Linked DNA regions of Homo sapiens: region 1 is linked to region 2. The links come from fine-mapping of genetic effects on gene expression. A gene starts in region 2. The other region holds a variant in brackets. All regions are shown on one strand. Distances are between the middles of the regions. Region 1 overlaps NEK5 (NIMA related kinase 5). Region 2 holds the start of NEK5 (NIMA related kinase 5).

The links. PIP is the estimated chance that this variant, and not a neighbour inherited with it, causes the effect. A credible set is the group of variants that fine-mapping cannot tell apart.
Region 1: its variant is the best candidate, but not a certain one, in a credible set for the expression of NEK5 in lung (TOPMed, PIP 0.62).

The regions. Positions count from the first base shown.
Region 1 is chr13:52,069,888-52,075,272 of GRCh38, forward strand. It overlaps NEK5 (NIMA related kinase 5), which reads right to left. Exons shown (of 24, transcript NM_001365552.1): 20 at 2,057-2,183. Among named protein-coding and RNA genes, the nearest start is that of UTP14C, 48 kb to the left of the region's middle. The variant G/A (reference allele first, on the strand shown) is at 2,671.
Region 2 is chr13:52,126,117-52,131,501 of GRCh38, forward strand. NEK5 (NIMA related kinase 5) reads right to left here and starts at 2,957. Exons shown (of 24, transcript NM_001365552.1): 1 at 2,913-2,957; 2 at 1,479-1,546; 3 at 1,250-1,388. The coding sequence starts at 1,366. It overlaps LOC101929657 (a long non-coding RNA gene), which reads left to right and starts at 2,779. Exons shown (of 2, transcript NR_110306.1): 1 at 2,779-5,385.

The DNA of each region.
Region 1 (5,385 bases), 56 kb before region 2:
AGCTCGCACTTCAAACAGTGATTAACATTTCAGGCTCAGAAAACATGTTTTGTGACTTTTTTGCTCATAACACTTCTGTGATATTGAGAACAGGGCCCAGATTTCATTCATCTTTGAGCTCCCTACCAGTGAGCAGTCTTTGGCACAAAGGAGATCCTCAATAAGATGCCTGCTGAATGGAGATTTTTCCAGAAGGAAATGAGGCAGAGAGTATTCCAGGAAGAGGAAACTGAGCCAAGTCAGTTCTGTAAATGCTGTAGGAGAAAATGGGCATTCCAGCTGTAGGAGAAAATGGGCATTCCAGCAGGCTGTATGGATCCCATTTTCCATGGAAGGAAAGAGGCCATGCTGGGATGAGAAAAGTGGGTCACAGCAGAATTAGGCCATGTAGTGTTAAATGTGATAATATGTGGAATGGACCTTATTCTGCAGGTATTATCCAAAAAAAAATCTGAGCAGAGTAATAATATGCCAAGATAACTTTAGTAACTGATATCGTTTGGCTGTGTCCCACCCAAATCTCATCTTGAATTCCTGTGTGTTGTGGGGTGACCCAGAGGGAGGTGGTTGAATCATGGGGGCGGATCTTTCCCATGCTGTTCTCGTGATGGTGAATGAGTCTCACGAGATAAGATGGTTTTAAAAAGAGGAGTTCCTCTGCACAAGTTCTTTCTCTTTGCCTGCTGCCATCCATGTAAAATGTGACTTGCTTTTCCTTGCCTTCCACCATGATTGTGAGGCTTCCCCAGCCATGTGGAACTGTAAGTCCAATTAAACCTCTTTCTTTTGTAAATTGCTCAGTCTCAGGTATGTCTTTATCAGCAGCAAGAAAATGGACTAATACAGTAACCATTTAGAGAATGAAGGGGAAATACTAGAGAAAGAAGGTCACATAAGCAAATAAGGCAATACAGCAAGGGGAAGGAAAAGGGAAAATGAAAAGACAGCACTTAATTTAGGCACCTAGTATGTGCCAGGTCGTTTATACATCAAAACTCACTTTGGTCCTCACAATTACCCTGTGTGGTTATTCCTACTACTATTATCCCCTGTTCCTAAGGTGAAACTGAGATTCAGTGTTGGAATAACTTGTGAAAGAAAGGTCACATAACCAGAAGGTGGCAGCAACAGCTGAGATTCAATTCCCATCTGTCTCTGAAGCCTACACCACACTACTGAGAGATGACAGAGCCCTAAACCAGTAACAGAGAGAATGAAGGAAGAGGAAGACTCCAGAGACATCTCAGAATAGACACTATGCTAAGGGTGCACCCTGGTGACAGCACTGACTGTGAAGTTCTCATAAGATAAGTAAACAACAAAAAGGGAGGGGTCCCAGGTTGGGGGTGGGGATGGGGGAACAACTGTTCTGAGAGATGACTCATCACAGACAAGCTGCTGTCACATCCTGTTCCCAAATACCTCATTCCTTCCACATGTAGCCCAAGCAGCAAAACCTTATCTGCACACCTTATCAGCATGTAGCTCCTCCAATATGACCCTATAAAACTTCCCTCTAGCCCCTGCCTCTTAGCAGACAGCCTCTTCTCTGCTGTGCTGCCCATTGCACTCTTGCAACGTATCTCTGTACTTTAATAAATCTGCCTTTCTTTACTTACAATTGTGTTGATAAATTCTTTTACTGCCCACAACACTGGCCCCAGCCAGTTGCATCTGTGACACTAACCAAAATAAAGGGTCACTGGGAAGAGCACAGAAGAGCTTGACTTTACACAGCTGAGTTTCAGATACTGGCAACACTTGTCCATGGAGCTTCCCAGAAGACAATGAGAAAGACTGGTAAGTCTGGAGCTCCTGGGAGAAGCCAAAGCTGCAAGAGGGAGTGGGTATGGAGCAGGAGAGGAGGGCTGGATCTCAGGGAGTGTGGCCACTGCATGGGTGGCAGGAGAATAATAAGTGTGTTTCTGCCTTGCTTAGAGAGGGCAGAAAGGGGTCAAGTAACAGTGGAGCCGAGGCAGATGCATGGGGACAGAGTTCAAAATGGGTTGCTAATAAAACAGTTCCTTCTCATTTACAACTTTCAAGAAACACATACCTGCTTCTGGGCAGTGAAGTTTTTCAAATGCTTTGTCTGTATAATCTCCATGCTCCTTTACACATTCATATTCCTTAAACTTCATGCCATCCTCAAAGGTCAAAGTTTCATTTGGTATATCCATTGCCTAAATCAATTCCACAGTGTTTCATGATAAATTAGCCATATTTTGAAAGAAAGAAAAACCATATTTTCGTGTTCCTAGTAAAATTAATTAGCAAGGTATATAGTAAATATTCAACAAATGTTTACTAAACAAATAAATCCATAGAGTTTTAAAACTAGAGCTATGTTAGATAAAAACAGAAATGTTTTCATTTCTTCTCCATGTTAACAGTGTCAAGCACTGGTCATAAGGCAACTTAATTTTATCTAGACTTTCTGACTTCAATAGTATTCCACTTCAGCTCCATTCTACAGTGCTCTCAAGCTTTTCTCATTCATGCCCTGTTTTAAGTGTACAACATTCTTAACCAGCTCCCTAAATCTGCTCCTAGTATTTTGTAGTCAATACCAAAATGACCACTTCTGTTTCACGCAGATCAAAGCAAAGAATAAGAAAGAGTGGCAGTTAAAACTTTTTGGACTCCATTCTTTCATTTCAGCAGGGCAAC[G/A]TCAGCACCTCACTTCACAGAAGCTCTGTGAGAGTACCACTTCTCAAGTTCCCACTCAGAAGCAGGTCCCCAGATCTGCTCCACTCTGATGTCTCACCTCTGGGGCATTTAGGAATTTATGGTTGAACAGAGGTGAATGCTAACTATCACCACTCTAATGAAGTCTTTATGTAGCAAATGCTCATAAAAATAAGAAATGCTAACATGAAAATGTTTTAAGCTAATAAAGAACATTAAATAAAAACTGAGCATCAGGTATAATTATTCATACTTATATTGACTTAAAAGGTGAATTCAGAAAAGGTAAAATGGAAAAATAAACCAATTAATTTTGACATTTGTTATAGGTCTGATAAAACCAGGATAAAAAAAGATTTTGAAATCAACTAATAAAATGAAATTTGGATTTACTGTATTGGATTTACTGTATTTACTCCTTGCTGTGGCAAGGAGAGCCCAAATGCATAAATGAGATTTACTTAAAGTTATCAATAACTAATTAAGACCTAAAATAAATGTGCCTGGTTTCAGGGTACCTGTTCAATTTTTTAGGTCAGTATATTAGTTGTTGACAATGTATCAGGTCTTCTATTTTAATTTGGCTATGATAAAAATTAATATTATGAGTAAAATAGCTCTTTTATTTAAAGAAAAGTAAATTAAAATGTAATAATTTATCTAAAGAAATAACACCAATAAAATAAAATGGGAGAATAAAAAGTATTTGGAGGACTCATTTGAACACCAAACATTTTTCTTTCCCTTTTTTTTTTTTTGAGACAGTGTCTCACTCTGTTGCCCAGGCTCGAGTGCAGTACAGTGATCTCAGCTCACTGCAACCTCTGCCTCCTGGGTTCAAGTGATTCTCCTGCCTCAGCCTCCTAAGTAGCTGAGACTACAGGTGGGTGACACCACACCCAGCTAATTTTTTGTATTTTTAGTAGAGATGGGGTTTCACCATGTTAGCCAGGATGGTCTCAATCTCCTGATCTCATGATCTGCCCGTCTCAGCCTCCCAAAGTGCTGGGATTACAGCTGTGAGCCACCGTTCCCTGGCCTTGAGCACCAAACATTTTTCTAGAAATATTTTCTAAAATTCTAGGCATCCAAATAAGAAAAGAAGAAGTCAAACCATCTCTTCACGCTTATGATACTATAGGTTGAAAACCCAAAGACTCGACCCAAAGGTTCCTGGAACTGATGAACAACTTCAGCAAAGTTTCAGGATACAATATCGAAGTACAATAATCAATAGGATTCCTATACACCAATAACATTCAAGCAGAGAGCCAAATCAAGAACGTAATCCCATTTACAATAGCCACCAAAAAATAAAATAAAATACCTAGGAGTACATCTAACCAAGGAGGTGAAAGATCTCTACAAGAAGAGCTACACAACACAGAAAGAAATCATACATGACATAAACAAATGGAAAAACATGCCACATGCATGGATTGGAATAATCAATATCATTAAAATGGCCATACTGCCCAAAGTAATCTATAGATTCAACACTATTCCTGTCAAACTACCAATGTAACTTTTCACAGGATTGGAGAAAAAAAAAACTATTCTAAAATTCATATGTAAACAAAAAAGAGCCCAAATAGCCAAAGTAATTCTAAGCAAAAAGAACAACGCCAGAGTCGTCACATTACCCAACTTCAAACTATACCATAAGACTACAGTAATCAAAACTGTATGGTACTGGTTCAAAAACAAACACATAAACCAAGGAACAGAATAGAGAACCCAGAAATAAAGCCACTCATCTACAGCCATATAATCTTTGACAAAATCGACAAAAATAAGCAATGGGGAAAGGACTTCCTATCCAATAAGTGGTGCTGGGATAGCTGGTTAGCTACATGCAGAAGAATGAAACTGGACCCCTACCTTTCACTGTATACAAAAATCAGCTAAAGATGACTTAACAATTTAAAAGTAAGACCTTAAACTATAAGAATCCTAAAAGAAAACCTAGGAAACACCATTATGAACATGGGCCTTGGGAAAGAATTTGTGATTAAGTCCTCAAAAGCAATTGCAACAAAAACAAAATTGACAAGTGGAACCTAATTAAACTAAGGAGCTTCTGCACAGCAAAAGAAACTATCAACAGAGTAAATAGACAACCTACAGAATAGAAGAAAATATTTGCAAACTATGCATCCAACAAAGGTCTAATATCCAGACTCTATAAGGAACTTAACTGAACAAGAAAAAACAACCCAAATTTTAAAGTGGACAAAAGATAGAAAGAGACACTTCTCAAAAGAAGACATACAAGCAGCCAACAAATATATAAAAGAATACTCATCATCACTAATTATCAGAGAACTACAAATCAAAACCACAATGAGACACCATCTCACACGAGTCAGAATGGCTATTACTAAAAAGTCAAAAAACAAATATTGGCGAGGCTGCAGAGAAAAGGGAATGCTTATGTAGTGTTGGCGGAAATGTAATGTAAATTAGTTCAACCACTGTAGAAAGCAGTTTGGATATTTCTCAAAGAACTTAGAACTACTGTTCAACCCAGCAATCCCATTACTGGGTATATATCCAAAAGAAAACAAACCATTCTACCAAAAAGACACATATACTCACATGTTCATCCCAGCACTATTCACAATAGCAAAGTCATGGAATCAACCTAGGTGCCCATCAGTGGTGGTCTGGATAAAGAAAATGTGGTACATATACACC
Region 2 (5,385 bases):
CTACTCTCATTTATAAATCCTCTAGAAGCTGACCAACAAGACTTGCCTTAGAATTAATTCTAGCAAACAATGGACATTGTTGTCCCAATATATTATGAAATGAACATATCACTAAAGAGGGTGACATAAACACTGACCAAGGTGGATTTAGCAAAAATTATTAATTTTTAATTAACTATATTTATTTTCCAAAATCATTAGACCAACAATTACATATAGTTTTTCTCTATTCATTCAGTGCACTCAATAAATGTGTTTAGCACCTATTATGTGACAGGAACTGTTCTGCATACTGAGGAAGACAAGCAATAAACAAATGAATAATTAAGAGAGCAAAGTAATTGCAGAGCATTATACATGCTAGTAAGAAAATAAACCAGGCCAGAAGCAGTGGCTCAAGCCTGTAATCCCAGCACTTTGGGAGGCCAAGGCGGGCAGATCACTTGAGCTCAGGAGTTCAAGACCAGCCTGGGCAACATGGTGAAACTCCATCTCTACTAAAAATACAAAAAATTATCCAGGCATGGTGGCATGCACCTGTAGTCCCAGCTATTCAGGAGGCTGAAGTGGGAGAATTGCTTGAATCCCGGAGGTGGAGATTGCAGTGAGCCAAGATCATGCCACTGCACTCCAGCCTAGGTGACAGAGCGAGACTCCGTCTAAAAAAAGAAAAGAAAAGAAAACAAAAAAGAAACCAGGAACCAAGGTGGTGTGATAAGGTGATAAGGTGTGATTGTGGCTGGGGGTCTACTCTAGCTAGGATGTTTGCAGAAAACCCCTCGTAGAGGACCTGAATAAGGAGAGAGGAAGTGCACCACAGAGAAAAGTCAGGGCAACAGAGGAGGCTGGCATCTCACAGGGCCTTGCAGGGCACCCTAAGGAGGGCCATAGGAGCCACAGGGATGTGATCTTATTTCTTTTCTATTTTCATTAAAAAAATTTTTTTTTAGCAGGGACAGGGTCTTGCTATGTTGCCCAGGCTATCTCGAACTCCTGGCTTCACACAATCCTCCCACCTTGGCCATCCAAAGTGCTGGGATTACAGGGGTGAGCCAGTGCGTCCAGCCTCTTTTTAAAAATGAGATCATTGGTTGCTGTTTGGACAATGGACTTAGGAGGTTGAATTAACAAAAATCAATTATGGCTTAAAATTCGAAATTATAAAAAATAAAAATTTCCTTTTTATATTGGATTAAAAGCCAGCTGAATATCCCACTGAAAATTAACAGAAATTTGAACTTAACTTTACCTTTTCAAAATTGATCTCTTTTATGACACAGTGCTTGCTATCTGATTTCCCTTTAGCTAAGTATGCTTTCCCGAAGGCACCTTGCCCGATGGCCTTAATCACATCGTACTTATCCATGGTCTCCAATGGGCTGAGTTTCCTGGAATTAGAGTAATGTAAATTTATCACACACGTCTCATAAAGACTAACAAAGTCAGAAAACTGATGACTAAAGTGTAAAAGAACTCACTTAGCTAAAACTTTCCTCCCAGCCTTGCCAAGACAGAGACAAATAACTTTCTTTGTGGCCACAGATAACTGAAATGAGACAGAGTTTCTTGGTCAGACACGGGTCATAGCTCAGCTTTGATACACTTTTGCCCTGTATTCTCGGGTAAGTCACTTAACCTGGCAAAACCTCACTTTCCTAATTTCTAAAATGGAATAACAATACCTGTTTTGCAAGTTTGTTCTGAGAATGAAAGATACTATATCCGGTGTTTCGCACCTTTATAAAGCAGGAATGTCCTTAGGCTTGTGCACTTTTATAGTTCAGCCTTTCTTAGTGGGGACGTACTGCCCCCTAGGGGGAATTCTGGAAATATATGGGGGTGGGGAAGCTGTTTCCCCAAGATTCAGAGGCATGAGGTTTACAGGTGGTTGGGGCCTGAGATGGTAGGATTCTGCGATTCGAGAGACAGTCCCGCACAATAAAGGATTACCCCGCGGCCCTACAATCTTGGAGAGTCTTCCTATACATTCCTGTGCGTGGAAAAATCCGTTTGTGGCTAGAACCAAACTCTATTTTACATCGAAATGCTAAGTATTTTTGCAGTTTTAATGAACACTTCTTTTTTTTTTCGAGGAATGCAACTACATGTAAATCAAGGCTTGATTGCACTTCGGTTTGGAGGTTTACCAAGAATTGTTCACCATTTGGGAAAACCACGCGCTTCACTGGCCACGCTGCTCCTGGTCCCGGAGACCCAACAATCTGCATTTGCTGCCGTCACGTTCAGGCGACTCCCCAGGCGCGGCTACTGGCTACTTCTCTACATTTTCCAAGGGTAGTAGTGCCAAGCATTTTCAGATTGAAATATGTACTTTCTTACTTATTGCTTTCCTTCTATTTCCTCTTTATGCTACAGTTAGGGCATAATACAGTTTTGTTGTTGTTGTTAATGGGGTGAGCAGGGGGCTTGTTTTCGAATAATTTTACGTCAGGGTGGGAAGTCGGTACTGGGTTGCAGGGGGCTGGGAACCAGCTCCGCAGCCAGGAGAGGCTGCAGACACCGGAGGATCGGGTTCTGAGAGAGACGCATACGGACTTGGGGCCGGGGGTGACTCGCCGGGAACTGAGGGCCCGCGACCCTCCCGCCCAAGTGGCACCAAAGGGTGGAAGCCCCCAAATTAGGAAAATTCCTTCTCCCCTAGGGCCGCCCCTGGAAGCGGCCGCGGGTGAGTGGCAAGACGCTTACCCGTACCCGACCTCCGCGTGTGGAGCGTTGCCATAGAGACCGACGCGCCCTGGACGCTACACCCACACAGCCCAGGACGCTAGGCCTTTTCTGGGCCGCCCCCGCCGCCCCAGGCCGAAACTCCATCCCTTTCCCCCACCCTGCCGAGCTCCCGAAGCCCTGTGGCGGCTCCGGGCAAGAACTAAGGGCGGCCCCTGCAAGCGTACCTGCTCCGCCGGCTCCGCGGGGCCAACGAAGCGTCCCGGAAGGATCCGGGTTCCCGGGGCCGCTGCGCCTCCCTGCGGCCGGGGCGGAGCCGCGCAAGGAAACGCGGGCGGGGCGCGGGTCTGGAATGGCCTGGGGACCAGTCCACCTCGAGGCAGGGTCAGGCGCCAGGGAGTTTGGAGACCCGGCAGAGTCACCCCGCAACCGTCCCGTTGCCTTGGGTCGGGATTCCTTTGCTTTGCAGTCTACAGTAGCGCTCCCCGCTCTTGCTTAAGGTGCACCAGACGCTTCGCAAACGTTCTCTCTTTTCTTTACAACCCGTCAAGGCAGTAGTCTCCCAGTTTTACAAATGAGCTAAACTGATACAGGAAGAGTGTTTCTTGTACAAGGTCTCAAATATTGCCAAAAGGTGGACGTGAGACTGGAACGGCTTCCTACTCTTTGGGCCACAGCGGCGGCCTGCCAAGGGACTTTCTAACGAAACCGGCGCTGCCCAAGCGTCTGCACTCACGCCCAGTGCTCATCCCACCCTGCCCCATTCTGGATTTGCACATCAAGCTGCTGTCTAAAATGTTTAAGTAGTTGAAAAAAATGTAATTTTCAGCAATTGTAAATAGTGACGCAAGTTAAATATATCCAACTGAATCGAAACACTACAGTAATATGGTACCCTCCATCGTCCACCTCACACACACACACAAAAAAAACCCACAAAAAACTCTTAAAAATCCTAAGTTTACATCATTACTCTTCCTTCTTAAAATCATCTCTCCGCCGCCCCCTCCCCGTCCCTGCCACAAAAAATTTCTTCTTCTTGTAAGCACTCTAGTCAAGTTGGATTAGGGCTGAACTAAAGGCCTCATTTTGATCTAATTGCATCTTTAAAGTCTCTGTCTCCGAATATAGTCTCATTATTAGTTATTGGTGTTAGATTTCAGTGTGTGAATTGGGGGTGGCCGCGGCGGGGGTGAATGCAGCCCGTAGCAGGAGTCCAAAAGTTGTTTAGCAGTTGGAATATCCAATGTTAGTTTCTTTGGCAGTGAAATTCCCTCAAAATATTAGTAGGTATATGATCTACTTGTTTTTGTTTAATTACACGTGTCAGTGACCACACCCAAATTTCTTCCCTAGAATTCTTAGACATGCTTCATTAAATCATATCTTCATTCTACTTTCCTGATAGAATTTTACCCGTTATCTTTTTCATACTTGAAAGTCTTATTGATCATCCTATCATACTGCTGAAAGAAGTACAGAAATGGAAATTTATATTTCCTGCTCATAGAATTTTAGTTTTTCTGGATTAAATTGTTAAAATTACTAGTACTACACAATTGATCACAATAAAATGTATCACAATACTGATAATTATTAAATATAAAAAATAAAATTGTATTGAAAATTCATCTCTTTAAGACCTGGATGGGCTTCCCATGCACCGTTAGTTCCTGTATCCATAGATGAATGCTAACTTCTTGCTACAATGAAGTTTAACACTGATTCTCTTCCATTTTCTTAAGGCTGTAAGTGCTGAGAAATAAGTACATAGGAATGAAAAGTTTTGTTAAAAGTGTCCCTCAATTTTTGTCTAGTTGTATCTCAAGAATCATATAGTAATCTGTCACCAAAACTGGTTTATAATCATGAACTGATAATTCCATTAGTCTTCTGAAATTTTATTAAAAGCAAAACCCCATAAGCCATTCTGATTTTGAAAAGGATTTATTATCCAATACTTATCCAGTCTCTCAGTAACTGTACATAATTTCAAGTTTTTTTTGTTTGATGGTTTTGAAATGTTTATGCCCTTGGGCAATGCCAAGATTGAAGATGACTAAGAGGTATGGAATACAGTATATATGGAAGCTGAGTACCTGGAAATGTCCTTAAAACTATCCATGCCTGCTTTAACTTGAAAAATCTTCAAGAGAGTAGTAAGCTAATTTCAAAGAGCTAACCCAAGTAATTTTGGGAAATGGTATTTGACTGGAAACTATGAGACAATAGGAAAGATACATAAACTCTGTACCTTAGTTGGTAAATTTGTTTCTCCCAGGGGTATGGGTTAATGATTTGGAAACTGCTTTACAAATAGACTAGGATTGAACAGCTAAGCAGATGGCGGATGGTACAAGCCAGTTTTCTCATTGTCAGGGAGAGAAGTTACAGAAAAGCGTGAGAAGAAGGCTAGAATGAACCTTGTAGTACTGGGTTAGTTGGAGACATCAGTATGGACCCATGCTTAATTTAATGTATGTACAGATGGAGAGATACAGAAATAACTGTAGAGATGTCTGGATGGATATACAATTATACAGTGTATACAGGTTAGTATACACATATATACTTCCTAGCTCTGTCTGCTGAGAGGGCCTAGAAGCAGTGACACCCCAGGAGCAATAAGCACACCCAGCACCCAGATCTTGGTTTCTAAACCAGTGGGAACCTTGTTGAAATGGATGATTTTGGGGCTGG